7 linked regions of the Homo sapiens genome follow. The protein of the gene in region 3 interacts with the protein of the main gene of each other region in a pairwise test. Each region holds a gene or a part of one and is shown on either strand. Other genes may lie near its edges.

The links.
Region 1: the proteins of CADPS2 (region 3) and TSPOAP1 interact in a two-hybrid assay, tested with the Homo sapiens proteins (one large-scale study listed by BioGRID).
Region 2: the proteins of CADPS2 (region 3) and TTC3 interact in a two-hybrid assay, tested with the Homo sapiens proteins (one large-scale study listed by BioGRID and IntAct).
Region 4: the proteins of CADPS2 (region 3) and TMEM132D interact in a two-hybrid assay, tested with the Homo sapiens proteins (one large-scale study listed by BioGRID).
Region 5: the proteins of CADPS2 (region 3) and UBE2U interact in a two-hybrid assay, tested with the Homo sapiens proteins (one large-scale study listed by BioGRID and IntAct).
Region 6: the proteins of CADPS2 (region 3) and MEGF10 interact in a two-hybrid assay, tested with the Homo sapiens proteins (one large-scale study listed by IntAct).
Region 7: the proteins of CADPS2 (region 3) and WDR4 interact in a two-hybrid assay, tested with the Homo sapiens proteins (one large-scale study listed by BioGRID and IntAct).

Annotation. Positions count from the first base shown.
Region 1 is NC_000017.11:58,325,897-58,330,478, forward strand, and holds the start of TSPOAP1 (peripheral-type benzodiazepine receptor-associated protein 1), read right to left. Parts: upstream 2,900-4,582; 5' UTR 2,025-2,899; coding exon 1,692-2,024; intron 895-1,691; coding exon 787-894; intron 526-786; coding exon 397-525; intron 1-396. UniProt on the Homo sapiens protein: Required for synaptic transmission regulation. It probably controls the recruitement of voltage-gated calcium channels to the presynaptic membrane, and modulates neurotransmitter release.
Region 2 is NC_000021.9:37,195,126-37,199,171, forward strand, and holds part of TTC3 (E3 ubiquitin-protein ligase TTC3), read left to right. Parts: intron 1-549; coding exon 550-911; intron 912-2,444; coding exon 2,445-2,571; intron 2,572-2,756; coding exon 2,757-2,900; intron 2,901-4,046. UniProt on the Homo sapiens protein: E3 ubiquitin-protein ligase which catalyzes the formation of 'Lys-48'-polyubiquitin chains. Mediates the ubiquitination and subsequent degradation of phosphorylated Akt (AKT1, AKT2 and AKT3) in the nucleus.
Region 3 is NC_000007.14:122,876,073-122,880,118, reverse strand, and holds part of CADPS2 (calcium-dependent secretion activator 2), read left to right. Parts: intron 1-4,046. UniProt on the Homo sapiens protein: Calcium-binding protein involved in exocytosis of vesicles filled with neurotransmitters and neuropeptides. Probably acts upstream of fusion in the biogenesis or maintenance of mature secretory vesicles.
Region 4 is NC_000012.12:129,701,241-129,705,286, forward strand, and holds part of TMEM132D (transmembrane protein 132D precursor), read right to left. Parts: intron 1-4,046. UniProt on the Homo sapiens protein: Regulate neuronals morphology via inhibition of the WAVE regulatory complex (WCR), a complex that controls F-actin cytoskeletal dynamics.
Region 5 is NC_000001.11:64,201,819-64,206,594, reverse strand, and holds the start of UBE2U (ubiquitin-conjugating enzyme E2 U), read right to left. Parts: upstream 2,973-4,776; 5' UTR 2,545-2,972; coding exon 2,479-2,544; intron 2,055-2,478; exon of another isoform or gene 1,812-2,054; intron 957-1,811; coding exon 875-956; intron 1-874. UniProt on the Homo sapiens protein: Catalyzes the covalent attachment of ubiquitin to other proteins.
Region 6 is NC_000005.10:127,454,515-127,458,523, forward strand, and holds part of MEGF10 (multiple epidermal growth factor-like domains protein 10 isoform a precursor), read left to right. Parts: intron 1-51; coding exon 52-96; intron 97-886; coding exon 887-1,093; intron 1,094-2,613; coding exon 2,614-2,804; 3' UTR 2,805-4,009. UniProt on the Homo sapiens protein: Membrane receptor involved in phagocytosis by macrophages and astrocytes of apoptotic cells. Receptor for C1q, an eat-me signal, that binds phosphatidylserine expressed on the surface of apoptotic cells. Cooperates with ABCA1 within the process of engulfment.
Region 7 is NC_000021.9:42,865,574-42,869,619, forward strand, and holds part of WDR4 (tRNA (guanine-N(7)-)-methyltransferase non-catalytic subunit WDR4), read right to left. Parts: intron 1-4,046. UniProt on the Homo sapiens protein: Non-catalytic component of the METTL1-WDR4 methyltransferase complex required for the formation of N(7)-methylguanine in a subset of RNA species, such as tRNAs, mRNAs and microRNAs (miRNAs).

The sequences.
Region 1 (4,582 bases), on a different chromosome or scaffold from region 3:
TTAACTCTACATCTGAGTTTAGGATCAAAGGATGCTGCTAATTTGGGGCTGCCACTGTGATGGGTCTCATCCCTGCCCCCACTCCAGCTCTATACCCTGAGATGAGCTCAGCAGAAGGCTGCCGCCAGCACCAGCACGTGGTAATCCAGAATCCTGCTCCCTGCCTGCTCAGGAACCTCCCCATCCAGCTCTTCTCTGCCCCCTGCAGCTCCAGAAACCTTTGGCCTCCTTGCCTGGCCAGCCTCTGCCCTTCCTGCACCTTAGCCCCTAGATTCTTGCTTTCCTAGGTGCTGAGCTGAGACCGTGACTCCCAAGCTTCAGACAGCCCTCAGGCCCAGCCCTGGCTCCCCTCTTCCTTGGTCACCCAGCCTCCGCCCAGCAGCCTCCTTTCCTCACCACCCTCAGGTTCGTTTCCTGCAGCTTTCGGGCCCTCTCCTCCAGGCGCTTGGCAATGACCGCCAGCTCGGCGTTCTTCCTCTTCAGCCTCCGCACCTTCTCTTCTGTCTCAGGGAAGCTGCTCTTCCTCTGACAAGGGGTCAGGCAGAATTGGGGCATGTAGGGAGCACCCCACAGACCCAGTCCTAACAGCCCAAGTCTTGGGCTAGAGCCCTAGGCTCACAGTGGGGTCCTTGGCAACTCTAGGCAGGGGTTCACCCTCTCTGGGTCTCAGGATTTTGTCACCTCCATTGAGCCCCCACTTGGAAAGATGTTCATGGGGTGAGGAGGGCACTGAGGCAGAGGGCCTGGCTCCAGCCAGAACGCAGCACCCCAGTCTCCAAGCCTCACCAGCATCTGGTTTTCCTCCTTAAGGATGGCACAGCGCTGCCGCAGCTCCCCCAGGGCCCTCAGCAGCTCCAGATTGGGCCTGTCCCCAAAGCTCATATTCAGCTTGGCCTGGCATGGGAAAGGACCGAGGACAGCACCTCAGAAACCCACGTCACCCAGCCAGAGCCTTCCCTGTGGAAGCATCCACCATCCATGGTCCAAGGAGACATGGAGATGAAACGGTTTCCCCTATGTCCCAGGCCTTCAGAGAGGAGCAGAGGAGGCCTAGGAGAAGGAACTGTCCAGTCCTCCCTGTCCACATAGACACCCCCAAACCTGGCACCCTCCTGCTCCTCCCTGATCCTTCCCATTCCTACCCATCTTCTCCTCCAGGGACATGCGAGCTCGAGCTCCCACTCCCATCCCTCCAGACTCCCCTGCCCTCCCCCAAAGTCCTGTTCCTTCCCTCTTCTACAGGAGCCTGCTCACACCCACCCCAACCCTGCCTCAGCCCAGCACCAAGCCCCCTCCCCTCAATCTACTTCCTCTGCACTGATTCTCTGTGCACCTCCACACTCCCCCTGTATCCCCCAGCCCCTAAGGACAGACAGACTCATGGAAGAAGAGACACAGACAGACACACTGTCAGGAGGAGGCACAGAGAGGGACGGGGCAGCAGCAGGGCCAGATCTAGACAGACAGGCAAAGAGGGTCAGAAGGACAGACAAATGACGAAAGAAATGGAGCCCCTCAGATTTCTGCTCGATGAAGAGAGGACAGATAGCCACAGAGATGGACCCACAGACAGGCCAAGAGAGGACAGGTGGGCATTGGGGATGCATACCTCGCCTCACCTCCTGGCCAGGCTGGAGGACATGGTGAGAGACCCCCACCTTGCAGACCCCAGCCCTCCACAGATCCCTTACCTTCAGGAAAGCCTCCACTTCCTCATCCTCTGGCCTCTGGCAGGCGGGTCCAGAGCTGGATGCTTGCTGGCCCAGGCTGGGCAGACAAGCCTCTGCTCCTTCAGGGTCAGTTCCCCCCACGGGCCTGGAGCTCCCGTCTCCTTTGGGCTTGGAACTCTCCTCAGACCTCAGTTCTTGAAGCTGCAGAGCTGCCGGAGGAGTATCAGCGATGCTTGGGGCTGCACTGCTAGGTTCACCCCCTCGACCTGGAGTCCAGCTATGCCAGGTGGGCAGTGCCCATGGCTCCATGGCTCCAGGGTCCCCAGGCCGTGGGAGGGTTGTCAGTTGCTCCATGGTACTGCCAAGGGGCCCCAGAACCCGGGCCGGGGGACATCACCCAGCCAGGTGGGGGGACTGGCGAGGGTCATGCCAGGCCAGCCCCTCTCCCCTCTGAGCTCTTGCTTCACCGACGCTCCATCCAAGGTTGGCTGAGCTCTTCCCCACCCACAAAGGAGGCTGCAGAAGGCGCCAGGGCTGCTGGAGCTGGAGCCAGGGGTATGTGAGCTATGTTTGCTGGTAGCTGTGTGTGTGCGCGAGTATGTGGAGGAGCGAGGGTGTCCCTGTGGGGGTAGGGAGGATGTGCAGAGGCCACCGACAGCTGCGCCTGGGTGAGGGTGCGTGTGTGTGTCTCCAGGTCTGTCCGTGCAGGTCAATGCTGTCTCATGTGTTGGGAAGATGGGTGCCCCCACTTCTGTGTGTTGAGGGGGGTGGTGCTGTGTGTCACTGTCTGCCCATTTCAGAGTTGCCAGTTGTTTGTGTGTGTGTGTGTGGGTGTCTGTATTGCAGGGCTGTGGCAGTATGTGATGCTGTCCCTGGTTGTATCTGAGTGTGTCAGTGTCGTGCAGCTGTGTGCATCGGTGTCGTTGTGTGTCTGTCAGTGTCTGTGGGTCTGGCCGTCTGTCGCAACCCCTCAGCCCGGCCAGAGGCTTCAGGAGCTGCTGGGGGTGATCCCCAGTGGTCCGCTGTGGTCCTTTATCTCCGGCTCTGCTCTCTGCTGCTGCTCTTTCGCTTGCTGGGTGGCTGGGCTGGTCCTAAGGAGGCCTGGGTCGATGGGCTGCTTGCCTCATAGTCTCAGCCCCTGCTGGCCTCTGCTCTGGGGACTGCAGGGGTCCCTTACAGTCCAGGAGCCTCGAGATGGTGGGCTCCGAGGAGGGCTGAGCCTCAGAATTGGGTGGGGGGGTGAGCCGGGAAGAGCCAGCCCTCCCCTCCTCCTCCTCCTCCTCCCCTCCCACCCACCAATAGGAAGTCGGCTGCTGGTTTCCATGGTGATGGCGCTGGACTGGTGGGCTGAACCGGCTGACAGGGTCGGGGACAGAAGGAAGAGCAGGTTTCTCACGGCATGTCAGCCCAGGGCTCCCACATGTGGCCTCCCACCCTCATCTTCACACATTCTCACACCTTCCGGAGTACAGAGGCGAGTGGGGTGCAGATGGTCCTCCCTACATCGGGTGAGACTGATAGAGACAGAACGGGGGAGGGTATGACAGAGATCCAGCCACAGAGAAGGGCAGAACTAGAAAAGATGGGACTTGAGATGAAACAAAGAGAGAGACAGAAACCAAGAGAAAGAAACCGGGAAGACAAGCAAAGAGACAGGTAGAAATAGACGGAGAATTCCTTCTGCTTCCTCCTGGCAGATTGCACTTGGGGGGCAACCTGGCTGTCCCAGGCCACCAGGGAAGCCCACATGGCCTGTTGGGTTGGCTTTGTCCCGAATTGCCTGGAAGTTCATCTTCTGTCTAGCCTTAGATCTTGTTGCTAAATAATTTGGGGGACAAGGACGTGAGAATCCCCTCAGCCAGGAGTCAGTCTATATGCAGTGGCAGGGGTCTAGACAGAGTCCCCAGAGCCAGGGGTGTTGGGAGAAGCCCCGAGAGGCAGCCCCTCTCCACTCTGAACCCGGGACTCATTAGGCAAGCCAGTTTCAGCCAAGGTCGGGGGCCCTCGTGTGGCACCCCCACAGAATAGCAGCGGTGATACTGAACCCTAGAGCCCCTGACTGTGGGCTCCACCCAGGCAAGAGCCAATGGAACTGGAGGTAGGGGGTGCATGGGGAGGAGTGGACATCTTCACTTCCCTAAAGCAGTGTGTAGGTCAACACGCACGCCACTGCATGATGTGTTGCTGTTTAGGTCAGAGTATATATGCATGCCATTATGCGCATGCGTGTGTATAGTATGCATCTATAGAATAGACATTATCTATTTCTGTATATGTGAAGGGGCCATTGTGTGTATATATGTGTGTGCTATTATGTGTCTATGAGTCACATAATAAAACGTAACAAAAACACATTGGGTGTATCTGTATGTATGTTTCTGTGTCATTGCATCTATGTTTGTTTGCCACTGTGTCTATGTGTGTGCTGTTATGTGCATGGGAGGCTATCATTGCATGAGTTTATAAATTACAACACATCATGATATATATAGATATGGATGCTACTATATGGCACAATGTAGTAATTGATTACACAATATATGACATGCTCATATCGTCATGTAAATATGCATAATGACATGGTTTGATTTATATATATATATCACCATGTATCTATGTATTCTATATTTATCATGATATATGAACATGTCTCTATCTATGTATGTGTATGGAGCCACCGTGTTTATTATGCAAATGTCACTGTATGTGTGTGCTCTTCTATGTGTAAGACACGCCCTATGTTTCTATCATTGCATGTGTGTACTACTGAATATGTATGTGCCCTGGGTGTGTGTAATCCCTGTGTGTGTCATGCCAGTCATGTCACATGTGTCTGTGTGTGTGTTACTGGCACACTGAATGGGGCCTCTGTGTGTAAATGCATTTGCATCTCAGTGTGTGCTTTGTATATG
Region 2 (4,046 bases), on a different chromosome or scaffold from region 3:
AGTGGATTTGCAGATTTGGATCTCAGGAAAATATTCTAGACTGCAAACTTTTAAAAAGATTTGGCCTCAGGCAGCTGCATGGGGAGGAGTGTCAGCACTGCAGGCGTGGACGGAGGCCTGAGAGCTGCCAGGAGAGCTGGCAGGGAAGAGGAGGCGGCCCCCTGGGATGGAGACAGCTCTGGGGAGTGTGGTGGCCATGATGTTCCATCTGTCAGCTACATGGTTTAGCTCAGAAGGGGAAAAGTGTAACCAGGTAGAGGCTGAAGGAGGGCCAGTAGGCAGGCAAAATGGTCTCATCTTACAGAGAAAATAGTGACTTATAGAGATAATTATTTAGAAGTCTGAGCCCTCCTACTCTTGTTCTAATAACTAACAAGTTATTGTCAAGAATTCTTTTAAAACGAAAATATTTAATTCATGGTATTCAGGTTTCCTGTGCACGGAGCCTCTGCGCTGCGTTACTGTATTTATTCATCGGCCTTTGTCCTTGGGCGTTTCATCCTTCAAGGGAAGCCCTAAGTGATCCATGGTGTGGTGTGTTCCTCACAGGTTCATCCCGAGTTACTCCCTGAGTCTTCAGGCGACGATGGCCAAGGGCTTGTGACTTCTGCAAGCGACGTGACTGGAAACCACGCAGCACTTCACAGGGATCCTAGTGTGTTCTCTGCTGGTGATTCCCCAGGGGAGGCTCCTTCTGCGCTGTTGCCAGGGCCACCCCCTGGTCAGCCTGAAGCCACTCAGCTGACAGGGCCAAAACGGGCTGGCCAGGCAGCTCTGTCAGAACGAAGCCCTGTGGCTGATCGGAAGCAGCCTGTTCCTCCAGGACGTGCTGCGCGTTCAAGCCAGTCTCCAAAAAAGCCGTTCAATAGTATTATTGAGCACCTGTCAGTGGTATTCCCATGTTACAACAGGTATGAACAGAAAATGTCTGTGACTGTGTTTAATACTTTATCGAACTGAGGTTTCCTGATTAGATAAAATCATGGCTAGTTAGGTGTTAACATGAAAAGGGTTGCATAATTGTTTTGCTCAGAAAGACAGTTGCTACATTTCTTTCTTTTTGTAAATATAGAGATAAGTATTTTCAAATAAATTGGTGGGTTTTTTCTTTCTTTTTTTTTTTTTTTTTGAGACAGAGTCTCACTCTGTTGCCTAGGCTGGAGTGCTGTGGCACAGTCTCGGCTCCCTGCAACCTCTCCCTCCCGAGTTCAAGCGATTCTCCTGCCTCAGCCTCCTGAGAAGCTGGGATTATAGGCATGCATGACTAAGCCTGGCTAATTTTTGTATTTTTAGTACAGGTGGGGTTTCACCATGTTGGCCAGGCTGGTCTCGAACTTCTGACCTCAAGTGATTCACCCGCCTTGGCCTCCCAAAGTGCTGGGGTTACAGGCATGAGACGCCACACCCAGCCTCAAATAAATTTTTTAATGTGCATATGTAAATTGAAAACATTGAGCACTGGGTAATATTCATCAGAACCCATGACAATTTGCTAAGATTTTGATGAGACCAATAGCACTGTCTAAAACTAGTGTTATAGTATCAATAAATGAACGCAAAACAATAATTTTGCATCATTTGGGGGGACAAAATTATATATAGCAAAGAAGGCAGCAGCAACTTAAACCTTGTTATATAAGACCTCTGATTTGTTAGAGTGTGAGGTTGAAGACTGGATGGAATTCCATAGTGAATGGGGCATGTGGACATGTTAACAAGGGGTCCTTGTGAATGTGGGAAAAAGCTGCCCTTACCTGAGTGAGCAAGAGCTGTAAATAGAGTTGGGATGATGGCAGGCTCTTCAGTAGCGTTTCTGCCTCCACCTCTGGTTTCCGCTGTTCAGGTTGTTACGAGGGGGACAGAGTTGCCTCTTGTCTCAGCTGTGAAAGATGATGAGGTAGAGGCGGTGTCTCTGAAGTGCAGCTCGGATCAAAGGACTCTATGCTCAGGAATGACCTTTGGCATGTGCCCTATTATTTCAGTTTCTGAGACAGTGTTAATTACAGGCTTCAAAATTGAAATTTGTAAACAATGGGGCAGTTAAAATATGATTAGCCAGCAGGCATGGTGGCTCACGCCAGGCCGAGGCAGGTGGATCACCTGAGGTCAGGAGTTCGGGACCAGCCTGACCAACATGGTGAAACCCCATCTCTTCTTAAAAAAAAATGGCAAAACTCGCTTGAACCTGAGAGGCAGAGGTTGCAGTGAGCAGGGATCGCGCCACTGCCCTCCAGCCTGGGCAACAGAGTGAGACACTGTCTCAAAAAAAAAAAAAAAGTTATGCTTTTTAGATAGTTATTGTTGTTATCAGTGGTCTTCAGATTAATTTTATGTGCATTTGTCTTTGTTTCTTTGGGTTGGGCTGTTGGATTAATATTGGCATGTAATATTTCTTAGCAGTAGAGAACTTTCTGTTGTCATTCATCACTCACTCTCCCTTTCAGCACTGAGCTTGCTGGTTTTATTAAAAAAGTGCGAAGCAAAAACAAGAACTCACTCTCAGGATTGAGTATTGATGAAATTGTCCAAAGAGTGACAGAACACATTCTAGATGAACAGAAAAAGAAAAAGGTATTTTATCTAGATGTTCCAGTTTATCCTTATTTATTTATAAAATATGAGAATTGTTAAAAAAAAAAAAAAGCTTCAAACCAAAACCTAGAGAGCAATGTACTAAAGACAGAAGATGGTCAAGTTGTTGGATAACTGGTTGCTTCCCTCTTGTCCCCTCCCCGCCACCCCTGTTATTTTCGCAGCCAAACCCAGGAAAGGACAAGAGGACTTATGAGCCCAGCTCTGCCACCCCCGTGACCAGGTCCTCCCAGGGCTCACCCTCGGTGGTTGTTGCACCATCACCCAAAACCAAGGGGCAGAAAGCAGAAGATGTCCCTGTGAGGATTGTATGTATAACTGTATAGTTTTGTTTTTTAATGAAAAACAAGAAGCAAACAAAATTTTTAATCCATGATTTAGCCCCATTCATTTCTAGACCTAATTTATTTGATCCCAACATTAGAAACTGAATTTCAATGTACTTGAATGTGTCCAGTTAGAGCAATCAGTGAATGGCCGAGGTCATGGTGTCTGCTGTGATACGTTTGGGCCCAGCATGGAGAGAAGCCCCTGCACATGAGTGACAAGGGCTCTGACCATCGTGGGGGATCTGAGCCTTCTCTCTCTTGCCCTTGTTTTGCTGCAGATGGTCAAGTACATGAACTTTGTACATCCAGTGTGGTATTTTGAACAGTTGGGGAAATCATTTTTGAATAATTTTCTTCTGTGTAACCATGGCTTTGGAATTACACAGATGTGTCAATGTGTCGTGTGGCCACACCCACCCCAAGATAGACCGTGATTGCCTGGAGAAGAGGGTTCTGTTTTTGCTTCATGATGGATGTTTGTAGTAACGAAGATATAAAAGCTGACTTACTGAAACTTCACCAGATTGTATGAGAAAGAAAAATATGTGTTCAAACTGGGACCTAATTTGATAACCATAGTTTGTTAAAATTAAAAGTATTAATTTTCAAATTACAAAGTATTACATACAATAGAAAATACAAATAAAAAGGGCATTTAAAAACCCGCCCTGTAATCAGTATTACCACTTTGGTATATATTTTTCTAAACTCTTGAATGCATGGATATGTGAATTAGTCAAAACTGAATACGCTAGTCACACTTTGTATGTTCTCTGAGGGGCTGAATGTTTTGGTTGTTTTCCATTTTTTTTTTTATTGTGGTTGTCCTTTTTTTCTTTTAGTTAGAAATATACTGTGCCCATCTTTTCTAGGAAATAGAAAACGGTCAAGTTAAGTGTATATTTTTTTCAAACTAAACCTGGCTCCGAGCTTTGCACTGGGCATTGGAGAGGCCTTCAATGGCTCTTCCCCGGTCTGGCACTTCCTCTTCTTCCCTGACCCTCGAGTCATGGGCAGCAGTGGAGGGGCATGAACCCTCCTTCTGCAGCATCTGCCCCATCTCCTCCTGGGCCGAGTCATGCCTTGGGAGAGACAGCAAAACCCTGAACAGCAGTTCAAGGTCTT
Region 3 (4,046 bases):
CAAAACCGTTAGTGGGCAAACTGTTTCCTCAGTGTATGTAGTAGTAATGCGTACAGGTTTTCCAAAAAGTAAACTTTAGAAGTCATTCTAACATAATTATTAAAGTAATTAAATGACTTATTAAAGTAATTAAAGTAATTAAAATGACTTGTTTATTAATTAAAATGACTTGTTTAAGTTCTGCTATGTCCAAAATTATAACATTAGGTGGACAGTAAGGAAAAGCTTCTATTTTCCTCAAATCTTATTAAAAAGGTACGTTGTTGGTTTGCATTTGGGAGCCTTTTACTTTGTACAGCATCATGAATGCTCTGCTTGCTTCTTGAAACTTTTATACCACTTTGTAGATGTTGTGGTTTCAGTACTTTCATTTTATACCTTCAAGTTAGTGATGGATTTTTATAATGAAAATATTACTGGGGCAAAGGGCCTGAAAATTTAAAGCCTGTCTTTGTCAATCTAATAGCTAAGATATTTAATTTGCTTCTTTCTGATTGCTTGTGAGGATGAGTATTTGTAAGCTAGTGTCCTTTTCCCCATTTCTTTTCTTTTCTTTTCTTTTTTTATTTTTATTTTTTATTTTTGAGATGGAGTCTTGCTCTGTTGCCCAGGCTAGAGTGCAGTGGTGTGATCTTGGCTCACTGCAACCTCTGCCTCCTGGTTCAAGTGATTCTCCTGACTCAGCCTCCCTAGTAGCTGGGACTACAGGCACGTGCCACCGTGTCTGGCTAATTTTTGTATTTTTGGTAGAGACGGGGTTTCACCATATTGGCCAGGCTGGTCTCGAACTCCTGACCTTGTGATCTGCCCACCTTGGCCTCCCAAAGTGCTAGGATTACCTGCATGAGCCACTGCACCTGGTCCTTTTTTTTTTTTTTTTTTGAGGCAGAGTATCACTCTGTTGCCCAGGCCAGAGTGCAGTGGTGCCATGTTGGCTCACTGCAACCTCTGCCTCCCGCGTTCAACTGATTCTTGTGCCTCGGCCTCTCGAGTAGCTGGGATTACAGGTGTGCACCACCATGCCCAGCTAATTTTTTGTATTTTTAGTAGAGATGGGGTTTTTCCATGTTGGCCAGGCTGGTCTCAAACTCCTGGCCTCAGGTGATCTGCCCGCCTCAGCCTCCCAAAAAGCTGGGATTGCAAGTGTGAGTCAAGATGCCCGGCCTGCAGCCCGACTTTTGATGAATCTCTACTTTCATTACTAAGTGTTATGGCCCAATTTAATTATTTCCTTGGTAAACTATTTATTGAGTCCCTATTATGTGAATTTAACACTATCCAATATGTTCCGAGGATATAGTAAGAAAATAAAACAAGCAAATAATCCCCTTGTGGGCTAATGTTCAATAATTACAGGTTGTATGTCTATAAGTTTATTAATTTAATTCTTTTTTCAAATTTTCATGTAATTTTAACTTATGACAACTTTGTATTTATTTATTTATTTATTTATTTATTTATTTATTTATTTATTTATTTGAGACAGAGTCTTGCTCTGTCGCCCAGGCTGGAGTGCAGTGGCAGGATCTTGGCTCACTGCAAGCTCCACCTCCTGGGTTCACGCCATTCTCCTACCTCAGCCTCCTGAGTAGCTGGGACTACAGGCACCCGCCACTGCACCCGGCTAATTTTTTGTATTTTTAGTAGAGACGGGGTTTCACCATGGTCTCGATCTCCTGACGTTGTGATCCGCCCACCTCGGCCTCCCAAAGTGCTGGGATTACAGGCGTGAGCCACCGCGCCCGGCCGACAACATTGCGTTTTAATTTCTGGTGTGGTTATTTCCCTCTCTAATGTGTCAGAAATTTTTTACTTGTATCATTCGTCTTTCCCTTCCCACTTTTTTTTTTTTTTTTTCTTGAGACGGAGTTTCGCTCTGTCGCCAGGCTGGAGTGCAGTGGCGCGATCTCGGCTCACTGCAACCTCCACCTCCCAGATTCAAGTGATTCTCCTGTCTCAGCCCCCCGAGTAGCTAGCTGGGATTACAGGCACGTACCACCACGCCCAGCTAATTTTTGTATTTTTAGTAAAGACGGGGTTTCACCATGTTGGCCTGGATGGTCTTGATCTCTTGACCTCATGATCCACCGCCTCGGCCTCCCAAAGTGCCACTTTTTAAAAATAGTGCAGTAGTATAGCGTCTTTGTTAGGAAAGCACTGGCTTCAGAGGGCCTGGACTTCATCTTCTCACTCACTCACCGTGTGAACAAGGCACTTCGTCTTTCTGGGACCTAACTACTCCTTCAGTAAAATGTTGATAATTTAAAAATCATAGGATTTCTGTTGTGACGAAATGAGATGCCTATAAAGTACATGCTCCTGATTAGACGCTATCGTTTCTAGTTGTTAATTAAACCTGTTTGGGAAACAATGATATTTTTACTATATTCAGCCTTCTAGGAGCATACGATATCTTCAATTAGTCAAGACTCTGTAACTTTTTGAAGGTTTCATCATATAGATCTCTTGCATTTATAATCAAGTTAATTTTTATATTTTATATTTTTATTGTGACATCTTTTTAAATCTCATTATGGATAAATGGGAAGCTTTTTTTTGTAATTAACTGGTCATTGATGTTACTTAATTGTTGTCTTCAGTGTTGATCCTTTTAGATTTTCTAGGTAGGCAGTTGAAGCATCTGTTGATAGTGATGGCTTTTGTCTGGTCCTGTCCAATAGCTATACCTCTTTTGTTTCATATGTCACCATACTCTTTAGAATAGAACAGTATTTGTACTTGTTGCCAAAGCCCTTGTTTTGATCCATTATTCACTGGGAAATGTTTTTGGTGCTTTACTAGTGAATATACTGTTGGTTAGGATTCTTGGATAGAATTCTGGTATTCTTTGTTTATCCTTTTTCAAAAATTACATTAAGAAAATAAAATACATCAAGAATTGATACTGAATGTTATCAAATTCCTTTTTTTGTATTAATAGAGGTGAATGCCTAGTTTTGTTTTACTGATGTGACAGATCAGATTACTAGGTTTCCTGTTATTAAAGCATATTTGCATTTCTCGGGTAATTTCTACCTGATTATGACTGTTTTTTTTAATACACCTTTGAGTCTGAGTTTCCTGTACTTTTAATTTTTACATGTATGTTCATAAGAGAAAGGTCTATCAGAAAGGTGTTAACTGAGAAACATTTTACCTTTATATGTGCTCTAGAATAGTTTTTTTGTTTTGTTTTTGGTATGTAAATCATCTGATACATGAAGTTTTGAAAGAATTCACTCGTGAAATTACCTGCATCCAGACCCTGTTTTTTTTAGCCTATTGCTTTTTCTTCTTATTCAAAATTAAAATATGATAATTGCACGATTTCAGAAAAGTGGCTATTTTCAGATATAACATAATTTTTCACTTATTTTTCCAATATCCTTTATGTTAGCTATAAGTCTTATTTTAGATTATATTCTTCCTAAAAATATACATGTATATATATAAAATGGTGGAGTGCAGTGGCTAATACATGTAATCCCAGCATTTTGGGAGGCTGGGGTAGAAGGATCACTTAAGCCCAGGAGTTGGAGAACAGCCTAGGCTACACAGTGAGACTCAGTCTGCACAAAAAATAGAAAAAATTAGTCAAGCATGGCGACTCATGCCTGTGTTCCCAGCTACTCAGGAGGCTGTGGTAGGAGGATCACATGAGCCCAAGAGGTCAAGGCTACAATGATCTGTGATTGCACCACTGCACTCCAGCCTGGGTGACAAAGTGAGACCCTGTCTCAAAAGAAAAAATAAATATAAAATTAGATTTGCTGGATTCCCTTATTTTATTTTATTTTTTGACACAAAGTCTTGCTCTGTGGCCCAGGCTGCAGTGCAGTGACACGATCCTGACCCACTGCAACCTCTGCTTCCCAGGTTCAAGTGATTCTCCTGCCTCAGCCTCCCAAGTAGCTGGGATTACAGGTGTGCACCACCACACCCGGCTAATTTTTGTGTTTTAGTAGAGATGGTGTTTTGCCATGTTGGCCAGGCTGGTCTTGAGCTCCTGACCTCAAGTGATCCACCCGCCTCAGCCTCCCAAAGTG
Region 4 (4,046 bases), on a different chromosome or scaffold from region 3:
GGGAAATGCTAACAGACTTGGGGCAAAAATAGACGCAGATGCACAATCATAAATCACATGGACAGTGGACACCCGCCCCCAGTTGGAGTTAAGGGGAGAGATGCAGAGAAAATACCTTGGAAGGATATATTGGGAGGGGCCCTCTAGAAATAGATGAGATGAGGTGACCACGACACCAATGTGTCAGGGCCGGGCGTACAAAGCAATGCTCCAAGTCATCTATGAAACACTGGACCCTGAACCTAAGAAGCACGGGAAGGGCAGCACCTCGCTTCCATGCCAGCCACATCCTGTGGACACTACGCCGTCACCAACGAACAAAATCCATTGTTCATTTTTCCGCACTGAACGTATCTCTCCCTCAGGGGGAGAAAAATCCAAAATGTTATTTTCACAAGTTGCCTTACATTCTGTAAGAAAAATGCAGGCAGAGCAATTGCATAATCCAAAGAACCAATTTAAGGAGTTTTAGAAATGTAAACTATTGGCTGGGAACACTGACTTTCTAGGCAAAGCTCCACAAGTTATGCTGAAGCCCTTCTCGTCAGTCACCATGTAATTATCTTTGATTACTCGGACACTCATGGCTCCACCTTTCTCAAAGGCCCACGCAAACACACATCTGGAAGCCTGATGCCTTCCCGAGTCAGGACCCTTCTTGGCAGTCATCCGCCAGCAGCTGAGAGAGCCAAGAGCTCGGAGGCAGGGGTCCTGCTCCCGGCTTTGTGAGACGATGAGCAGGTCACTGACCCTCGTTGTTTCCCATGGACCCATTGGTAGCATGAGGGGGCTGACTGCAGCACTGTAGCCTCAGCCCAGCTGTGATAACACAGGGTGTCAGGCTGCATCCAGTTTAACTTCTAGACAAGAAGTTCAACGCATGTATTCAACCCGAGTTTACAGAAAGCCCTGGATGAAAAAATCTCTCCAATCATCGGCATGACCAAACTCAGAGCAGGCTGAGCTTCCATATAAACAACTAAGGCTTGTCTTGGACTGAACCATTTGAGACTGCTTATAAGTGAGCAGTCTGCATCCACCCAAATGACAATTTCCTAGGGTTCAACGTCATAAATATGGATTGTTTTCAAAAATCAAAATATCATAGATATAAAAAGGGACTCCATGCCTTAAAAAGATTACATGTTTTAACTTTATAGAAATAACTCCTGATTGATATTATCTCTAAACTTGTATCTTCACATGTGAGTTATAGTAAAAACAAAGAAGAGACAAAGAATATTTCAGCCCCTCTCTGGGCACCCTCTCCCCATTTGCCTAGCCACAGTTCTGTGACCTCTCTGGCTGCATTATCAAAGTCACCTTGCTGGGATCCTTTCCTTGACTGTATGATTCTGGGTTATGGTCTCCATCTGGGTTTTTCTGTAGCATCCCCAGCTTCCTGCATCAAAACACGTTATGCTTTGCTGTGATTCTCTATGCACTCCAGTGTGTGATATGCCAGGGAGCAGAAATGACACGCAAGGCTTTTTTCTCTGCTGTATTCACAGTCTTTAAGAGAGTGCCTGGTAAATGTCAGGTACTCAATAAATATTTGATAAACACGTGAATGAATAAATCAACATGTGGATTATGCTTTTTATGTCACAAAGAGCAGATTCTGTTTTTACACTAGGATGTTATTCACTGTCCTCTTGGCTTCCATCACTGTAATCGGAATCCTGGATCCTTTTATCCCATTAAGAGCTCCGTGTAATCCTGGTGATACGGGACTAAGGAAGATGGGCCTCTCCATGTAATGAGACTCCTATAAGACCTACATCAGTTGATACAGTGTCCCCTATTGTTAAAAACACATCTTGGCACCACTCAGAACAAGTACCTTGAGCTGCCTCAGCACTCTTTTGCCATTCGTGCTAGAAACAGCCAAAGCCAGACAACCAAATTACAGATGCTTAAATGTTAATGCCAGACACCAAGGCTCCGTGAACTTCCCTGTTGAACATCTGACCCCGACTACTTGAGGACATGAAACCTAACTGTGCAGCTAATTACACCTTCCAAGGGCAATGACATCGGGTCCTATGATTTTATTCAGGAAAGCAATAAGGCAATCGGGGTCACTGTGAACATCATTTGAAGGGAAGTAACTTCTTAGCTTTATTCCACAAATGGTCTATTAGTCATTTTGCCTGGTATCTGACCTAAATGTTTATTGCTTAAAATTGCTCCATTTTGACCTAAAGCTAGTGTCACTTCCTTTCTTTTTTTTTTTTAACTAATACTACAAAAATAATGCCAATTATGGTCCACGATGCACAGAATGAACGAAGTAAAACTCATTATCCTCTCATCCTTACAGGAATGGTTACTGTCACTAAAGGACATGATTTTTATTTAACATAAAAATTAGCAAAGTGTTAAATTACAAAGAAGCTATACACAGTAAATCTCAGCTAATAATTCGCTAAGGACAAAAATTACTTTTTGATTGGGTTCCGTGGCTGTAATTCTTACTTGAAGGAGAGTGACATGTTCGCATCTTGAAGCAACTCAGTGGTCTGGGAGAGATTTTGTATTAATTTTAACATTTTTGAAAGGATCATTTTTCCCTGAATAATACTTTTTTAAAAAATATGGGAGGAAGGCAATTTGAGCACAAGACTCTCAGTTTTCCCCTATGTGGACTCAAAAGCAATAACTAATCGAATACGGTAATAGGCAAAAAAAAAAAAAATCTACATCCATGCTGAAAATTAGGTACAATCTGCATGCCATAGACTGCAAGAATTACTGGGACTCACAAGGGACTCAAATACCTCACATAGAAAACAGAATGATTAGGGCAGCCAGATAAAACACAAACACCTAATTATGTTTTGATTTCCAATAAACAGAAATATTCCATAGGGCATGCTTATAATTAACAATAAATATTTTTAAATGGTGTTTTTCTGAAATTCAAATGTAGCTAGACATCTTGTGTTTTATTTCCCAAATCTGGCAATCCTCAGCATGGTATTGTCATAGAAAGAAAATAGTTGTCCGCTGAGTAGATAGCTGTAAGATATCTGATATCTAGGCAGCTGACAAATCTACCCTGATATCTGCAAGAGCAAAGGCCATGGGCCATGTGGGTGCTCCCGCACCTGACAATATTCCCAATGCTGGGAGGCAACCAGCTTTGCCATCAGCTGAATCAGAGACCCAAGCATAGGGGGCGCCGCGCTGCACAGAAAGCCCTAAAACATCAAGGCGTCTTGCTGATGCTGTTCTTCCCTAACAGAGACAGTGATGGGGGCAGGAGGTTTGACATAGCCACACTGCTCCTGGAATGAGTCCAAACCTAAAATCACTTACAGGAAACCAGTGCCCATGTGGCCCCTGCACCCAACTCACAGAAGGCACCTTGGAGCAAGGGATCTCCCCTGCTGGGCATGTCAACACCCCAGAGCATCCTCACCGTCCCCCCAGGGATGCCGGGTCATATGGTAACATGCAACGCCAATGTAAACAAGGCTGCCCTCGGTGAAGGATATGTAAATAAACAAAAACAGAAGGAGAACAGGACCTACCAATAAAAGCTGCAGAGTAACGAAGGAAATTCAGAAAGACATTCAAGAAGTAGAGGAATAACATACCTTTGAAGAGTATTTACCATAGAATATTGAAGTACCTTTTATACAAAATGACTTCGGAGCTCACAATCATCAAGAAAAGCAGAGCCTTTGTTGTTTTGTAAGGAAATAAGACTGAGATGGAAGAAGATCCTGAAGTATTAAAAGTAAGGAATTTAAAATGGTTTCAGATGCAATAACACAGATTTGAAAAATGCAGAAAATTGAATTTATCATATGAGAATGGGAGCTTTTGAAGCTTTCCCTACAGCTAAATAGAAAAGGCGAAGCAATGGAAATGATCAGTAAGAGGCTGTAACCATGTGAGATGCACATTAGATGTTCAATATTCAGATGATGGAGCTCCTAATGAAGACACCAGGAAAATGCAAAAGCAGCAGCATTAAAAGGCAAAAAAAGAAACGAAAACATTCCCGGGTTTATATACATATACAAATTCAAAGTAGA
Region 5 (4,776 bases), on a different chromosome or scaffold from region 3:
ACAATCTATTATAATCATACGTTTTCAGTCTCTTTCCCACTAGTCCTTTCCATCTACTACCTTTGTCGCCCTAACATCCACCCCCTCTGTTGTATCTCGTATTGACTGAACTCATGTTCCCAAAATCTGCTACACCCTTTCTTGTCTACAAGTCTTTGCTGTGCTGTTTACTCTGCCCGAATTTCCTTATCCTTCTTCTGAACCTGGCAGATTCTTCAGGACTCAACTCAAATGTGATCTCCTTGGGAAGACATTCCTGACTCCCTCAGGCATAATTAACTAATCCTCTTCCTCTTTAGCATTCTGTTCAAAATCCATAATAATGTATATTTTATTGTAATTATCAGCTGATGTGTTTGTCTCCCCTACCTCACTCAAGGAATCTATCTTATTAATCCATAATTGAAAGAAAACATGAGCATTAAAGTTTATAGTGGCTTAGTGTTCTTGAGATTTTTTGATTTATGAAAATTTGGGGGAAAATCATAAAGGAAAAAATGAGAAGTAACTGTGGGGTTTTGAAGCCAATAGGAATTTTGATAGTTATTCCCTGATCTCACGGAAGGCAGACGATATTCTCTCAATTGATATGCTCTATTGTGTCTGCTTCTTAAAAATGTAATAAAATTAAGATTTGGCATAAAGAAAAATACCCCAAATTTCCATCTATGTTGACACATGGCAAAAAAGTCATAAATAAAAAAAATGGGAATATTTTTAGAATTTTAGACAACTGGTATAATGCAAACTTATGCATATGAAGAAGAATTTCAGGAAATTTATATAATGCGACCTTATCCTACATAAAAAGAGGATGGGCTAATAATGGTATAAAGACTTTTTTAAAAAATAGATTGGTTTTGAAAATACAAACCCTGCCAAACTGAATTCTGTAGACCTTCAATTTCAACTTCCCATTCCATCATATCTTCACTTACAGGCTTAGCAGTGATACCCTTGAAGTTAAAAACAAAATTAAATCAGAAAAAACTTATTAAGTATTTATTGAAGTTTTGAAAATCATATACCAGGTCACACTGAATTCTAAAAACTCTAAATTTTCTTTCCTTGATAAGTTTATTTATTTGCTGCTCTGGGGAAGTGTTACATGTCTTATTTCACGGAAGTTAATATAGATCCCAGAAAACATATGCAATAGTAATTAAAAATAAATCATAAGTGTGGAAATCACAAGTGGGACTAGAGAGTCAAGATTAGAATGTGTGGCTTATATACTGTTTGTGTAAATCAATAACCAATTTAATATTCAAATTTTAAAAGAAAGAAATAGTTGGAAAGTGCATGTTTCTTCAAAACATTTTAGAGCTATATGAATGCTATATGAAAGGCATGAAGTGGGAACATTTTCATTAAGAAAAAATCCAAAATTACACTTGTATATAAAAGCAAAGTTTTCCTATACTTGAGGAGTTGTTCCAATGGAGGGACAAGAATGTATTTCATAGAAAACCTTATGAATTACGTTAAGTAACACACTTACAAACACATAAAAACACTTCTGAGCATCCACATAGTTATTAAGTATGTTAGTGCTTGTCTGGGTGAGCCCTGTCTCTCTATTATCTATATTTACATATTCCTTCATTGGATTCTCTTTCAACAGAGAACTACAGAGCTCAGGATGAGCAGAAACAATATCAAATGTTAGGTCCATGCCCCAGGAATGTTCGCTGTTGGACTCCATAATTGTTCCTAACATCTCCAGTGAATGCAGTACTTTTATAGCAGAGGTAAAAAATGAACAATGCCACTGAACTACACCTGAAGCAACTGTGGGAAGCACTCTATACCTTTCATGGACAGCTTTCTTTCTGTTCTTTCTCTTAAGCACTCCCTCTTCGCCCCCTCTTCCATTTTTCATTTTCCGTAAATCAGCCTGTGGCAGCCATGGACATTGATAACCTCATTGGTGGCGTTTAAGCCCAAGGACATTGCTTCTTTTGTGTTAAAACTATAAAGGGAAGGCATTTATGTGTCATGCTGGTAAAAGTACACTAGACAGTAAGCAGTGGAACACAGGAATTAAGAACTAGGGCTTTGAAGTCCAAAAACCCTGTAATGGAATCATGGGGCAAAATCTTTACAGAATATTTCTGAGGCTTAGGTTTTTGGTAAGTAAAATGAAATACTACTTATTGTATAGTATTATAATTAATGAGCATAAGCCTGCACCTACTAGTCACTAACTACATGACAGACCCTGATATTCAGTGCCTAGATCCACATAAATTACTCTGCATAATATGTTCAATATTGTTAAGCATTATTATTTTGAAGTAATAATAATTGTTATTAATATGAAACACATTACTTCAGTGAAATGGATTTATTAAATAACAATACTGTAGTGGCAAATCAGGTTTAACTAAATTACTACTTATAGAATAAAATGGGTTAAACTGCCTCTTAAAAATTATTGCACAATGAAACACATCTCTCCACGTGCCCAGTACTTACCTTATAATTGTTCTCCTTGAGATCACAGAAGTCTCTGTGCAGCAAGAGGTAAGCTCTGCCGTGCATGATAGGCAGCGGAGGGTCTGACACTTGTCCCCAAATGCCTCAGGTTTACTCTGAGGCAGATGTTTGAAGTTATGGGTCACTTTCCCACACTTAGTAAACTGATATAAGTTACTTGCTTTCTAGAACCTCAGAACGGTACCAAGATAAGCGGCTTCTAAAGTTGGGATATAACAATGACTTTTTCTCCTGACTCCTCTAAACGAGAACTTCCCGAAGGAAGACTTGGGCACTTCCTCATCTGCGGCGTTTCACTGCAGTGCCGGCTCACAGCCCAGTCTCAAGACAAACTTGGATGAGTAACGGAGACAAGCCCATGTCGTCGGCGCGTGAGTGGGAGTGAGAGGTGTACGCCTATCAGGGTCCTAGCAGGTTGTCTTCGCTTCACAGGTGCAACCCCGCAGCCACGCACCGGAGGAAGCAAATCGGTTGCCAACCAACAGGCCCCCGTGGGGCCGCCGAGAGACGGAGGCAGGGGGTTGGCCGCTCTCACCCAATCAGCGACAGGGGGCAGGCCTCTTGCTATCTCCACAGCCAATCCTACAACAGTTTCCCCTTTGAAAGGCCAATGAGATTCGTGGTCAAGGCAACACCACGCCTTCTCAGGCCACGAACATGGACTGTACAAAACTAGTGTAGAGGATGGGGTGAGGTCCCAGGACCCAGCATGTAAGTCACAGAAGCCGTCCCACGAAGTCTTTCTTCGAAATTATCCTTCCTTTTTCTTTGACTATCAAAAGATATAGTAAGTGACTGGTAGGTACAGGTCTGCATAACAATATCTTAACTTACATGGCGAGTTACCATTCACAGTAGTGTGCATGCTATTATGTCATCAAACCCTACAATCACCCTGGGAAAGTGCTCCAGGAACAGGGAACTGCTTAAAATTTCTCTGATTCCCATCTCTTCCCGCACAGTTTCGCACCTGCTGTTCCTTCTACCTAGGAGTTTACCACATTCCTTCCACCCCTTCAGCCCTCATTTCCCCTTCACTCACTCATCCTTCAGATTTTAACGACTCTTTAAGGGATCCTTTCTTTTGTGATCCCACAGGACCTTCTATTTGCCTCCTAGTTAACATTTGCCATACGGCATCACAATTGTCTATTGTCTTCACCAGAGTGGGAACTACTGAAAGACACGGTTCCATTGCCAGCGCCAACTACAAAGCCTGGCATCTTTGTTCAGAATACTTTCTTTTTTTACTTTTTACTTACTAATTTTATAGAATCCGGATGTTCATTTAGTCCATTCATTTTACAAATATTTATTAAATACTTTTTTTTTACTTGAAAGATTCAAATGAAGTAAATGTCTTTATGGCTCCAATATACAATAAACAAGTATGCAAAACAAAAATCATGATTTCAGATGGTGATAAACGTTATGTGGACAATAATAAAACAGTACCATGATAGAGATTGGGGTAGGTCATTAAGGATTAGAAATGGTAGTCAGGAAATGCCTCTGTAAGGAATGGGGTTTTGAACTCATACATGAAAGATGAGAAGGAGCCTGCTACATGAAATATTGAGGGCAGAGAGTTCTAGGAAGAGGAAAACAAGATATTTTTGAGTCAGGAAAGAGCTTGTCTTGAAAAGGGAACAAGGGAAGGTCAGGGAGGTTGTGGAGGAGCCTGGGAGGGGTGTGATAAAGATGGGCACTATACAGTAGGAAGTTTGGGCTTTATTTGAATAGCTATGGGAATCCATTTAATGGGTTTAAACAGGAGAGTGTCATGCTCTGATTTATTTATTTATTTATTTATTTATTTATTTATTTTATTGATCATTCTTGGGTGTTTCTCGCAGAGGGGGATTTGGCAGGGTCATAGGACAATAGTGGAGGGAAGGTCAGCAGATAAACAAGTGAACAAAGGTCTCTGGTTTTCCTAGGCAGAGGACCCTGTGGCCTTCCGCAGTGTTTGTGTCCCTGGGTACTTAAGATTAGGGAGTGGTGATGACTCTTAACGAGCATGCTGCCTTCAAGCATCTGTTTAACAAAGCACATCTTGCACCGCCCTTAATCCATTTAACCCTGAGTGGACACAGCACATGTTTCAGAGAGCACAGGGTTGGGGGTAAGGTCACAGATCAACAGGATCCCAAGGCAAAAGAATTTTTCTTAGTACAGAACAAAATGAAAAGTCTCCCATGTCTACTTCTATCCACACAGACCCGGCAACCATCCGATTTCTCAATTTTTTCCCCACCCTTCCCGCCTTTCTATTCC
Region 6 (4,009 bases), on a different chromosome or scaffold from region 3:
TTTTCTTCCTTTCAGTTCTCACTGGGTGTTTTTTTTCTTCCTTTATTACAGGTGCTTTTGGACTTGACAGAAGCTATATGGGAAAATCCTTAAAAGGTATCATGTAAATTTGAAGAAGAAATCAGAAGCACAATTAAATTTTTTTTAACCTCAAAGACTGAAATAGTTTTTAAACAAGCTAGAATGGCAAGAGAAAATGTAGAATTTTTAGTGTGGTCAGTTACTACAGCAAACACACAAACATGTGTGACTGACATCAAGAAAGTGACCAGAGGTGGTCCTTGGTAGAGCTTAAGTCTTTGGGGAACAAAAGATTCAGTTTGCTGAGGAAACACTCATATTTCATTTAAAAGAAATATGGCTTATGGGGAGACGGAAACATATAAAGGGAAATAGCCGGGACAATAAGAAAAGATCCACATGGTTACATGTTGACCAAGTTCTGCTGTTCAGGATGGGTGTGCATGATTAGATGCCTAGTACAGAGCTTTTACTAGGAGTCCTCCCAGCACAAATGCCTTCTTGTCATGATAATAGAGCCCTCTTGGTGCTCCTGGGGCCATCAACAGCTGGTTTCTTGATTGAACTTCTGTAAATTTTCTATTAATAAAACAAAACGTAATTGATTATATTCTAATGTGATCATAAAAATGAAATCAGTTAATGATATTGATGTCAGTACTCATCTTGGAGAGGAGCTAAAACTACTTTAGGGATGGGTCATTTTATAGCAGATTCTCTCCAAAACAAGTGGAAAAGGTACAGTATTATTTTCAGTGTGTAGAATTATGGAAACCTAGCTATAAAGAAAAACAGTAAAATATCACCAAGAAATGATGTTGCCAGTGACACAGCATTAGCTTTCTCTTCTCATTTCTCTTCACAGACCTGGGAAAGAATTCTGAATATAATTCAAGTAACTGCTCCCTAAGCAGTTCTGAGAACCCATATGCCACTATTAAAGACCCACCTGTACTTATCCCGAAAAGCTCAGAGTGTGGTTATGTGGAGATGAAATCGCCGGCACGAAGAGATTCCCCATATGCAGAGATCAATAACTCAACTTCAGCCAACAGGAATGTCTATGAAGTTGGTGAGTTCCCTTAACCATAGAAAGAACCGAGTGCTTAAGTTTTTAAAAACAATTTTAAAGTCTTTACGAATATAATAGTTGCAGGTCATAGAAATCTTATTGAAAATAATGGTCCGTATTTTATTTTATTTTATTTTATTTTATGTATTTTTTGAGATGGGGTCTCTCTGTCACCCAGGTGGTGTGCAGTGGCACAGTCTTGGCTCACTGCAACCTCTACCTCCCGGGCTCAAGCCATCCTCCCACTTCAGCCTCCCAAGTAGCTGGGACCACAGGCACGCACTACCACGCCCAGCTAATTTTTTGTATTTTGGGTAGAGACGGGGTTTTGTCACCATATTTTATTAATAGATGCGACCTGTGTTTTTAGCGATCATATTAATTGGTGCCAAAGGAATTTTCCAGGGAAAATATTATTTAGAAAAATTTAAGGTAAAGTTTCTTTATTTTTCACCTAATCATCCATCTTTTGTTTTGTAACCATAGTGAATATTTTGGCACACATGTGGATAGCATATGTATCATATTAGCTAATATATCTACTTAGCCGAAACAAATGGTTCAAGTGGATTAAACAGGTGATTCCATTTCCTGGTTCATTATATTAATATAATGCATTTAGCAAGATTGAAACATTTTACTTTTAAACTTGTCCAAAAGAGCAGTAATATTCTCTGATGTGAATGTGATGCAAATTAATATGAATTCAATTTAAAATTGGAGTTATTTTGATTGTCTTTTGCAGATACCACTTGGGAAATGATAAAACATTCCACCACTACTCTTGGCTAAACAATAGGGCTATATATTTTCATTTCTCTCTCTCTCTCTGTCTCTATTTCTATGTCTCTCTGAGTATTTATGATTTTAACTTTAAAATATTCTCTACTACTTGTAAATGAAGTGCCTACTTTACTACTAGTAATTTATTTTATGCCAGATACATCCCTGGGAAAAAATATACAAAATAATTTATTTTTAAAGTATTAAGACAGCTTTTTAAAATGCAAGTCAAAGTGAACTAAATTTATTTTTGGAAAGTCAGTAACAATTCTCCTTTAAACTGTCCCACAAACCTGCCACAGTAGGATGGGAACTCAAATGAGAGCCTGAGTCTTGAGTCCTAAAGTTCTGAACATGTTGAGTGTTTTCATGAACTGAATTAACGTTTGAGAATGTCAGTCTTCTCACCTGTGGAATAAGGGGCTTGGCCTACCTTATCCCCAAGGTGTTTTTCAGACCATGATTTATTTCCAGGATTCTGTATATTCCCTTAATATCTTCATCCCGATTATGTGGTCCTCCTTTTGTTCTGAACACCATTTGTGTTTGCCAGTTGATCCAACTACACAGAGTTGCCACCTGTATGTGATGATTTTTAAAATCATGTTTTTAAAACCAGCATTTCCTTATATTTTTTTAAAAGTCCCTTTGGTGTGTTTGACATTTGCAAGAAATGCCATATTCTTTTTAAAAACATTTCCTTTGCTGATAAATTAATATGTCCTTGGTTATCACAGAACCTACAGTGAGTGTTGTCCAAGGAGTATTCAGCAATAATGGGCGTCTCTCCCAGGATCCATATGACCTCCCAAAGAACAGTCACATCCCTTGTCATTATGACCTGCTGCCAGTCCGAGACAGTTCATCCTCCCCTAAGCAAGAGGACAGTGGTGGTAGCAGCAGCAACAGCAGCAGCAGCAGTGAATGACACCAAAGGACCGCTTGGTAGCCACTGGAACCCTTTCCAGAACTGCTGTTTGGTTCTTCTCCATCCTCAATTTTGCCACTTTCATGTGAATGTTAGTCAATTCGGTGGGCAATTTTTGGACATGAACCAGAAAGCTGAAAGCTGAGGCTGACACGGACTGTAGGTGCTTTTTGTTCAGGTGGATTCGAAGGAGTTAGAGATGTGATTTCCCATTGCTGTTAGTTTTAGAACTATACCCGTGAAGCATGACTTATTGTAAGATGTTGGCTGAAAGCATGAACTTGCAGAACTCCCTCGGAGACGCAGGTTGCAGTGGACATTGGGATTGTTGCTTGAAAAATTAAAATTTGAATATTTTCTCTCTCATTTGCATCATACAGCTCTACCTAGGATTGTACAGTTTACCATAAAATTTACTTCATGAAAGTGGGAATCACTGAACATGTAGAAGACAAGGAACATATTGTTAACTCCTGATTCTTAACTTTATTCAACTGGACTCAGAATTGTAGGGATAATATGAATGCAGGAGGAAACATTCTGTCAGGCGGTATGACTGGACAGACTTTGAATATACTCTAAAAGTGGACAGAAAATTTACGAAAATCTTAGATTTTGTTTAGAATGAGAAAATATACAATTAGAATTATTTTAGAAATAGTAGGAAGTATTGCAGAAGTCAATACACAAATGTGCCAGGCAGAGGTGGTTTTCTCTGTTTGACTCTCAACCAACTTCAGATCTATGACATTATTCTGATCACTGGCTCCATCATACATATTCACCACTTGAGATTCATAACATATCAATAGTTATTTCATAAATATAGAAATGAAATAATTTTATTTTTGACAGACTGGATGGAATGAGTGTGTAATGATTGATAAAGGTTGTAAATTTTAAATGCAAGATGACGCTTACGTTCTGTAAACCATTAGTAATACATGCTGTAATATAGAATTAGTGGAACATTTTGATTAATCTTTCCCTAGAAGTGACTGAAATATTTTTGTGCATATTTGAGAAAGGGAACTTTCCTTTTATTAATTGTCAATTTAGAGAAACTATGCTTAAGCTGGTCTTTTGCATTGCTAATGTGACATGTACCCAACTTTTCATTAATTTGTATTTCCATTTTTAAATTGCATATTCTATGTTTTGTAGTGTTTGGATTGTTAATGAAAAAATATTATATGTTCGTTATT
Region 7 (4,046 bases), on a different chromosome or scaffold from region 3:
GGGCTTATCCTGGCACCGATTCTAGGACGCAGCTGAGCCTTACTCGCAGGCTTGGGTGCTAGGATCCAAGGGAGGTCACAGAATGGGGCAGGTCACTGGACCAATGGCAAGCCGGCCTGTCACCCTAGCTGAGGCACAACCCCGCCCGCCCTCCAACCCCCAGCCTGTGCAGGGTCTCGGGTCTCGGGTCTCAGCACTCCCTCCACAGTCACTGGGTTCAGGGCCCAGAGACCAGCAGAACCTAGCAAGTAACCACCCATCTCCACACCCTCCGTTCTCTGCCAGGAGTCGAGTGGCTGAGCCCTGAACTCCCAGACTGAGTTGGCACTGCCCCAAGCCCCCCTCCAGAGAGCCGCCTGGGCAGCCCCAACAGGGCACTGAGGACACCAGGCACCATCCACACCCACACTCCAGCAGCCAGGTGCTCTCTCTCCACCCCCTGGGCAGAGCGAATCAGATGGTTCTCTGGCTCTGCCTTTCCCACGTGCTGCCGTGGCTCTCACAGTTGTTTTCGGAAACACAGACTCCACTGGGAGGATTTCTCCCTCATAAACACACATGTCAAAATCAATGTATCACTCGTCACCCTGTGTCCTCATCTTCGGCTTGGAAAACCTGGCCTCAGTCCCTCGGGCCAAGAGTCTCCTGACTGCCCAGGTGGCAGGCCCTCCGTCCCTTGCGGTTCTAAACTGCTACCTGGGAAAGAATCGTTGCTGCCCACAACTTCCATCTTGGCTACGCCTCAAAACCCTTCAACAGGAAGCTTCCCAGCAGCAGCACAGTAACAAAGCAACCATGGGACAGAGCCTAGGGTCTCGCCCAGCTCAGGGGCATCCTGCAGCGGTGCAGGGCCTCAGTGAAATGCAGAGAGGCTAGGAGTACATGGAACCTCTAAAACTGAATGGAGGTGGATGTGCTAAGCGTGGGCGGTTTTCTGGGGAGCGGGTGCATCAGATCTAAGAGTCTGAGATCTAAGAGGCATAAAAAGCCTCCAGGTGTGGGGAGCAGCCCCCATGTTTGCGGACCAGCCACAGGGTGCTGCCTGCCAGCTCAGCATGGTTCCACTCACCCTAGTCCTCTCCTTGAAAGCAGCTCCTGATAAAACTCACCCTATGCCCCTCTCCCTGCCCCACTCGCATCCCCCAAACCTACTCCTCCTGCCACAATAATCCCCTCCAATTTCTCACTGAGAGAAAGGGTAACAATTTCACTCCACCCGATGCTGAAAAGTTCACAAACCCACAATTCTAAAGGAATTTTAAAAAGATTATTGAGGAATTTGCCAAGAGATGTTGAAAGTGGCAGTAACTTCACAACTGTACCCACTGTCCTGCAGTTCAACTAGAGAAAGGGGAGGCAGCAAGGCGTGCCCTACACCAAGGTCAGGAGAAACCCCAAGCCACACCATCGAGGCGGGATTTTGTAATCTGCTGCCTGGACTGCATCAAATCACATGGTCCATCTTCCACACCACCTAAGGCAAACATTTCCTACACGAAGTTATACTGCTGACATCACTTTCAAAACCAAGAGCAGGCCGGGCGCAGTGGCTCACGCCTCTAATCCTAGAGCTTTGGGAAGCCAAGGTGGGCAGATCACCTGAGGTCAGGAGTTCAAGACCAGCCTGGCCAACATGGCAAAACCCCATCTCTACTAAAAATATAAAAATTAGTCAGGCGTGGTGGCTCATTCCTATAATCCCAGCTACTCAGGAGGCTGAGGCAGGAGAATCGCTTGAACCCAGGAGGTGGAGGTTGCAGTGAGCCAAGACCGTGCCACTGCACTCCAGCCTGGGTGACAAAGAGACACTCCGCTCCACCAAAAAAAAAAAAAAAAAAAAGTGAACGCACAGGTAAAGGGGCACTGCCAAGAGCCAAACACTGCTCTTTGCTCACATGCTGCAGGCTGCCCATCCCTCATCCCAAATGCTCGGGACGAAAAGTGCTTTGCACTTCAGATTTGTTCAGGTTTTGGAATATTTGCAAATACTTACTGGCTCAGCATCCCTAACCTAAAAATCCAAAATCCGAAACATTCCAGTGAGCATTTCCTTTGAGCATCTTCCCTATGCTCACAAAATTTCGGATTTTGGAGGATTGTGAATTTCAGATTAGGGGTACTTAAACTAGATGCACTGCCCACTCTTGGACTTGTGCTTTTTTTTTTCTTTGTAGATACGAGATCTCACTATGTTGAGGCCAGACTGGCCTCGAACTGCTGGCCTCAAGGGATCCTCTCACCTTGGCCCCTCAAAATGCTGGGATTACAGGCATGAGCCACCATGCCAGCCTCCCAGAGTTTTACCAGGTGCTTCCATAAAGAGAATCACACCAGCACACAACCTTCAAAAGACGAGTCAACACAGCAAGACATCTCCCTCTTGGCAAAGCACCTACAACCAAGGATGAAGAGGCCCCCCACCCGCCCAGCCTGCAGCGGTATCTGCATCCACCACGAGTCCCAACTCATGGAGCTCTCAACCTCAAATGACCTCCTCCAAGAAGCCAACTGCCACAGGCAACCACATTGAGTGGAGAGAATTCTAGATTCCTCCCTCCTCTGGGCCATGCACGATGCCAGGAGCAGAGGCCCCGTCCCTCTGGAGGAGTCAGAACCCCTGGAGGAGCCCTGGGCCTCCGCGCTTCCATCAGGGTGAAGAAGCTCCACTGTTAGGAACCAGGACACAGCGGGCAGGCAGACTGGACATCCCCTCTCTCCCAAGTTCAAAGTGAGACACTACCTCTGGACAGCAAGCTCACATTGAAGTAAGGTGACATTCCACCCACGTCTCCATCTTTCTGGCAACCTCAGAACTTCACAGCCGCAGCACTGTCCAGACTTGAAAGAGTCAGCGTCTTCAAGACACGAGTGAGCTCCCTGCCCGCTCACCCCCACCACCAGCCAGGCCTACGGCACACACGGCCAGACCCAGCCTCCCCTACCCTCTGCAGGCAGTGGCTACTCCTCAAATGGTGTCTGGTACCAGACATCAAAAGCCTTGGCACAGGGTACACCCTCTGCATAGTGAAGAATTAACCTTGCCTTTGGCCTCATCTCCAAGAGTAGGGGCCTTGGGCCCCACAGGCAGCCTAAGTACGTGATTTAGGGCAGGGGCCTGGGGCCACAAGGTGTCCACTCCACCTCTGGAGGGGCTGGGAACTAAAAGTCAGCCACCCCCACAGCATGTGATCAACCCCAAGGAAACCGCTGGACACCAAGGCTTGGGAAGCTTCGCCGTGTCTGTTGTCACACATTGGTGCCAGTAAACCCACACTGTCCACACCTCTGCTGTCCCAGTTGCTCTGGCTCAAACTTCCCGAAGTTTAAAGGCAGGAAGAGGTACAAGGAAACACTAGCATTTGAGCAGTGGAACAGTGCAAACAATGTAACAACTCAGCTACAGGGAATGACACAGTGTTGTCAACACTGCCCTGGCGGGGGGGAACAGGCTATAGGCTAGCACATGCCACCACTACAGTGTAACACATGCAAATCCTGTAATCCATCTGCAGAGAGGAGGAGGAGGGCCTGGCCCCAGTGCTCATCCCATACTCTGGCTCTGGGTGGTGAAATTCAGGGTGGTTTTTGTTCTTGCTCTCATTTTGTACTTCTCAGTGGTTTCCAATTTTCTGTACGGACCAAAACCAAAGGATAAAAAAGGCAAAAGGTAGCATGAGAGGACACCGAACTGTACTCCAGGGGAAGCAGACAAGTGAGAATTCACTCCCAACTTCTACAACCCCACTCACCATAGCTGAACGGGAACCCACACACTCCACTGTTGTCTAAGTAACTGGATCACGTCTGAGATCCGTGTACACATCGGCACGTGGATCTCAGCTCTGCACTTGTTCTTGACCCCAGGGCTTTGAAGTTTTGTCAGCTAAGGCAAGGGTATTGGAAAATGCTAATCCAGTCTCAGTGGTTACCGGTGCAGCTCACCTTACACACCTGTGCCACAGAAAGGCCGTGTGAGAAAGGCCATGTTGAGAGCCACACTTTGGGAGATGGGCTTATTTTGTAAAACTAAAGTGTCCAAATATAAA